Regions from separate parts of the Homo sapiens genome. Here region 1 is linked to region 2. Evidence: fine-mapped expression QTL. A gene starts in region 2. The other region holds a variant in brackets. All regions are shown on one strand. Distances are between the middles of the regions.

Evidence for each region.
Region 1: its variant is fine-mapped to the expression of GPR162 in whole blood (TOPMed, PIP 0.97).

The regions. Positions count from the first base shown.
Region 1 is chr12:6,798,445-6,801,281 of GRCh38, forward strand. It overlaps CD4 (CD4 molecule), which reads left to right. Exons shown (of 10, transcript NM_000616.5): 2 at 1,628-1,743; 3 at 1,863-2,027. The coding sequence starts at 1,695. Among named protein-coding and RNA genes, the nearest start is that of CD4, 10 kb to the left of the region's middle. The variant A/G (reference allele first, on the strand shown) is at 1,778.
Region 2 is chr12:6,820,008-6,822,978 of GRCh38, forward strand. GPR162 (G protein-coupled receptor 162) reads left to right here and starts at 1,814. Exons shown (of 5, transcript NM_019858.2): 1 at 1,814-1,893. CD4 (CD4 molecule) reads left to right here. Exons shown (of 10, transcript NM_000616.5): 10 at 1-792. RefSeq lists an enhancer at 825-1,797.

The DNA of each region.
Region 1 (2,837 bases), 22 kb before region 2:
TACACGTGTGAGGCAAGAACTTTTTAAAAGTGCATCTTGCGCAGCCCTAGATCCATTAAACCTTGATTCAATACAGGACATGTTTTTGTGAGCACAGGGTTGGGACAAAAGTTACAGATTAACAGCATCTCAAAGCAGAACAATTTTTCTTAGTACAGATCAAAATGGAGTTTCTTATGTCTTCCTTTTTCTACATAGACACAGTAACAATCTGATCTCTCTTTCTTTTCCCCATACCTCTCACGCTGTATCAGGCCCCAATTCTTGGGAACGTCACCTTAGAACTGTCCCACACATTTCTACAGCCACTTGGCTCAGGCCCTTTGCTGACCAGGATGGTTGCAGTTCTGCCTTTGGTGCCTCGCCTCCTCCAGTTCTTTCACTCAGCAGCTGCAGGGGTCCACGTGGCAAATCTAATAATCTTCTTCTCTATAGAAAATCCTCTGCTGGCTCTCTAGTGCCCAGGATCCAGTCCCAGCATCTCAGCACGGCCTTCAAGCATTTCCACGTCCTGGCCTGGCTCCATGGTCTCCCCGCCAATTTGCCACCTTCTCCATGCATCCTTTTCTGATCCCCTCCTCACTCATCCCAGCAAAGAACCCCCTCCTGGCCTGAGCATAGCATTTCGTGGTGTGTATCTCAGAGCATCCAGTTAGGGGTGTGCAAGTTTACTTTGTTACTGGCTGATGTTGTGAAGTCCCAAGTTGTTGGTGCCGCAAACAAAAAATTGGACATGACACACACAAATAGCAAAGCAGCAAAAGTTTATTAAGCACAGTACGATCCACTATGGATCAAGGATGACCTGCGAATGGTATCAGCATCACTTTGCTATATTTCATGGCCTTTTCTATGTGTTTTTTTTCTCTTTTTCCTCAAGCTGCCTAAGCTTTAGCCAGCATGTGCCTTTTGGTTGACAGGTGGGTTGCTTAGTTTCTTGGCCTCTGTGTGTTTACGTGTCATTTCCTTCCCATAGTTTTAAGTACATGCATGATATGCACTCTGTAGGCATGAACCTTAAGTAGCTAATTACTATACGGGGTCATTTTGAGGATATCTTTTCTCTGTAGTACATGTGCATCTTTTTTTGCAGTGGTGCAATCTTGGCTCACTGCAACCTCCTCCTCCCTGGTTCAAGTGATTCTCCTGCCTCAGCTTCCTAAGCACCTGAGACTACAGGTGCATGCCACCACGCCCGGCTAATTTTTGTATTTTTAGTAGAGATGGGGTTTCACCATGTTGGCCAGGCTGATCTCGAACTCCTGACCGCAAGTGATCCACCCACCTCGGCCTCCCAAAGCACTGGGATTACAGGCATGAGCCACCGCACCCAGCCTAGTATATGCCCATCTCTTAGGAGCTGCTCCTAACTGGTTTGGTTTGGATCTAGCCAGCCATGGGGCTCCTTATTCACTTATTTATCTTCTGTTTTTGCTCACCTGCCTCTTTCTCTTGCTTCTGCTCCTACTCATTCCTTCCTTAATCCAACCTCCAATTCCCTCTGCTATTCTCCTGCCTCAAGTTCACTAGGCTGGCTGCAAGGGTCCTGAGGGAGAGGTTGTGTATCGCCCCTGTATACTCCAGGTCCAGTAAATGTTTGCTGACTAATGATTGGCATTTCCCTCAGGCCCTGCCATTTCTGTGGGCTCAGGTCCCTACTGGCTCAGGCCCCTGCCTCCCTCGGCAAGGCCACAATGAACCGGGGAGTCCCTTTTAGGCACTTGCTTCTGGTGCTGCAACTGGGTAAGTTCTCAGACCTGGGGTCTCAATGCAGATG[A/G]CGTGGGAGGAAAGGCAAAGGTGGAGGATGGGGTAGAGGGGGACAGCGGCGACATTGAGACCTGACTCCTTTCTTTTCCACTTAGCGCTCCTCCCAGCAGCCACTCAGGGAAAGAAAGTGGTGCTGGGCAAAAAAGGGGATACAGTGGAACTGACCTGTACAGCTTCCCAGAAGAAGAGCATACAATTCCACTGGAAAAACTCCAACCAGATAAAGATTCTGGGAAATCAGGGCTCCTTCTTAACTAAAGGTAGGGTTGCCTGGCTCCCCATCCAGGGAGGAAAACACACTATGGAGTGAAAGCCTTTGGTGTCTGAGATCTGGTCTTAGTTAAACTCTGGGATCCCAGAGGGCTTGGGTTGACAGAAACTCAGTGGCATTCTTATCCAGAGTTTCTCTACACCAACTGCTGGTGGCCCAGGGAAAGGTGGTATGTGAATTTCAATATTTTAATATTTAATATTCATGAACTTATTTTAGTGAGTTTTAGAACAATCACTATCACTTAAAACCCGTGATTTCTTGAGTATTGTTGCTACAGACCTATGTAGATAATACTTTGCACAGTGACTCATATGTATAATCCTAGCACTGTGGGAGGCTGAGGCCGGAGGATTGCTTGAGTCCAGGAGTTCAAGACCAGCCTGAACAACATAGTGAGACTCTGTCTCTATGAAAAAAAATATATATATATTTTTTTTGGAGACAAGGTCTAGTTCTATCACCCAGGCTCCAGTGCAGTGGTGTGATCTCGGCTCACTGCAATCTCCACCTCCCAGGCTCAAGTCATCATCCCACCTCAGCCTCCCAAGTAGCTGGGACTACAGGCATGCACCACCATGCCAGGCTAATTTTTGTATTTTTTATAGAGACAGGGTTTCACCATGTTGGCCAGGCTGGTCTCGAACTCATGAGCTCAAGTGATCCACTCACCTTGGCCTCTCAGAGTGCTGGAATTACAGGTGTGTGTCACTATGCCTAGCCAAAAAAAATTTTTTTAATTAAAAAAAAAAAGGCCGGCTGTAGTGGCTCACACCTGTAATCCAGAACTTTGGGAGTT
Region 2 (2,971 bases):
TATAGACCAGAACCAGAGCTCAGAGAGGCTAGATGATTGATTACCAAGTGCCGGACTAGCAAGTGCTGGAGTCGGGACTAACCCAGGTCCCTTGTCCCAAGTTCCACTGCTGCCTCTTGAATGCAGGGACAAATGCCACACGGCTCTCACCAGTGGCTAGTGGTGGGTACTCAATGTGTACTTTTGGGTTCACAGAAGCACAGCACCCATGGGAAGGGTCCATCTCAGAGAATTTACGAGCAGGGATGAAGGCCTCCCTGTCTAAAATCCCTCCTTCATCCCCCGCTGGTGGCAGAATCTGTTACCAGAGGACAAAGCCTTTGGCTCTTCTAATCAGAGCGCAAGCTGGGAGCACAGGCACTGCAGGAGAGAATGCCCAGTGACCAGTCACTGACCCTGTGCAGAACCTCCTGGAAGCGAGCTTTGCTGGGAGAGGGGGTAGCTAGCCTGAGAGGGAACCCTCTAAGGGACCTCAAAGGTGATTGTGCCAGGCTCTGCGCCTGCCCCACACCCTCCCTTACCCTCCTCCAGACCATTCAGGACACAGGGAAATCAGGGTTACAAATCTTCTTGATCCACTTCTCTCAGGATCCCCTCTCTTCCTACCCTTCCTCACCACTTCCCTCAGTCCCAACTCCTTTTCCCTATTTCCTTCTCCTCCTGTCTTTAAAGCCTGCCTCTTCCAGGAAGACCCCCCTATTGCTGCTGGGGCTCCCCATTTGCTTACTTTGCATTTGTGCCCACTCTCCACCCCTGCTCCCCTGAGCTGAAATAAAAATACAATAAACTTACTATAAAGATGCTCTTCGTGTGTGTGTGTGTGTGTGTGTGTGTGTGTGTGTGTGTGTGAGAGAGAGAGAGAGAGAGAGACCCCTTCTCTGGGGACCAGGAATCTTCTGGTCTTTGGGGTCGGACCCAGAGGAGAGGTTGCTGGGCGTGCCCCAGGAAGGAGATGAAGTTTCCCTGGAGAGGGAAAAATTCTGTGGAGGCTGGCTACCCACCTCCACAACCCACAGGGCTCTGTGTGGGCCTGTGTGTGTGTGAGGCTGAGACTCTGTAATTACATGTGTGTGATATACCGTGGGGGAGAGACTCAGGGTTGTGTGAGCTCTCCTGGTGTATGTGTGTGGCAGAGAAAAAGGACTATGAGAAACTGTAACATGTGTGTGCAAATTGTATCCCCAACATATGTGTTTGTGTTCCAGGAGGAGGAGGCAGAGTGTGTGTGTCTGTGTGCATGCATGCGCCCACATCCTTTTAGCTTGTGCACAACCACCCCCAACTCCACAAGCAGCCCCAGTGTGCACCACAAGCCCCCTCACTCCCAAACCCAAGGCCCAGCCCTCACACAGATACACACAGTGACACACGCTTCCTCCTCCCCGAACAGCTAGCTCCTCAGTCCCCAACAACACCAGCTGCCTCTTGGAGCTTGTGTTCGTGTTGAAAACGGGAAGGGGTGGGGGCAGGACATGAACCATTTCACCAATGAAGCCGGTTCCCAGCCATCCTCCTCACCGCCCTCCCTCTCAGCGCCTTCCTTGCCCCTCCTCCCCGAGTCACCACCGTCCAGTTCCCCACCCTGCACTCGTTTCCCGCCCCCCCCCGCCCCCCACAAAGCTGTCCTGCCTTCCCTCTGGCCTGGGCTCACTGGCAGGACGACCCCGGGAGAGAGGGTCCTGGAGAGTGAGAGGGGCAGAGACCGAGTGAGCCGTGGGCTGAGCCTGGGAGGCCGGGACTGAGGGGGAGGAGGGAGGCCCGGGGGAAGGGAGGGAGGGAGAGAGGGAAGGAGGGAGGAGGGCGGGCGAGCTGGAGCCGGCAGGCAGCGGGAGCCCGAGAGAGCCGCGTCGGGAGTGCGGTCTCCATGGCAGTGCTGGGCGCAGCCGGAGAGAGGTAAGACGACCCCTGCCTGCCCCGTCCCCTGTGTTGCCTCCCTTTCCCCCTCAAGCTGCCTCCTCTCCCCTAGGCCGGCCCCTCCTCCCCAGCCACCTGCTGTTTCTGCCCTGGAGAACCTGGAGGGGGACAGGAGGGAGGAGCCGCCTGACCTTACCCCTTCACCCCAAAGGGCGAGGGACCCCGTCGGCCAGGGAACCTCCCAGATCCCCCTTCCCACCTTCCTCTGATCTCTCCCTGTCCTTCACCTCCCTCTCTCTGTCCTTCACATCTTTCCTGCCTCCTTCCCTCTCTGACTCCCTATCTCTTTCATCCTGAGCCCACCAGCTGGGCCTGGGTGGAGGTGGGTGGGAAGGGGTCCAGGGCTGTAGGAGAGGACACTGGGGGCTGCTCTTGGCCAAGTCCCTCCACCTCCCTCTGGCTGGCCATTGCCATGGCAACTAGGGTGTACTGGGCTCCGGAGGGAAGCCAAGGGTGGGGGTGGACCAGGACCTCTTGGGGAAAGCAAGGGTCTGAGCTGCTTCCATGGGAAACAGACCCTTTCACTGCTGTGCCCCATTTTTACCCCACTTACCCTAAAGCCATTATGTGCTTCCTTACAGCCCCACTCTGTTCAGGGTTTCACCCGATTCCCTTACCCCCCTTCCCAGGGCTCACTGAAGCTCAGCATCACGCACTAAAACTGGGACCATCCTTCCTCCCATGAGAGGGAAACTGAGGCTCTGGGCCAGGGAGGAAGAGTCAAGGTCTCCCCACGGGGAGTCAGCACCTTATTGAACATTTGGCTTTTCTTCTCAGCCTCCTATTCCCTGCTCCCTCCCTCCCTCCCTCCTCCAGTCCCTCCTCCCTCCAAAGCCTCCTCTCCAGGGGGTTTGAGCTTTTCCTGCTATTTTCAGATACTACCACTTTGCCCCCTCTTTCTCTTCTGCTCAAACTCTCCTCCTTCTCCCTAGTTCCCCCTCTTTCCATTTCTGGATGCTTCTGATGTCAGCGGTTTCCCCGCCTTCAGGTTCCCTAGCACCCCCTTCGGTCCCAGACTCCTTTCTCCCATTTTCCCAGATATGGGTAGCTGGAGGGT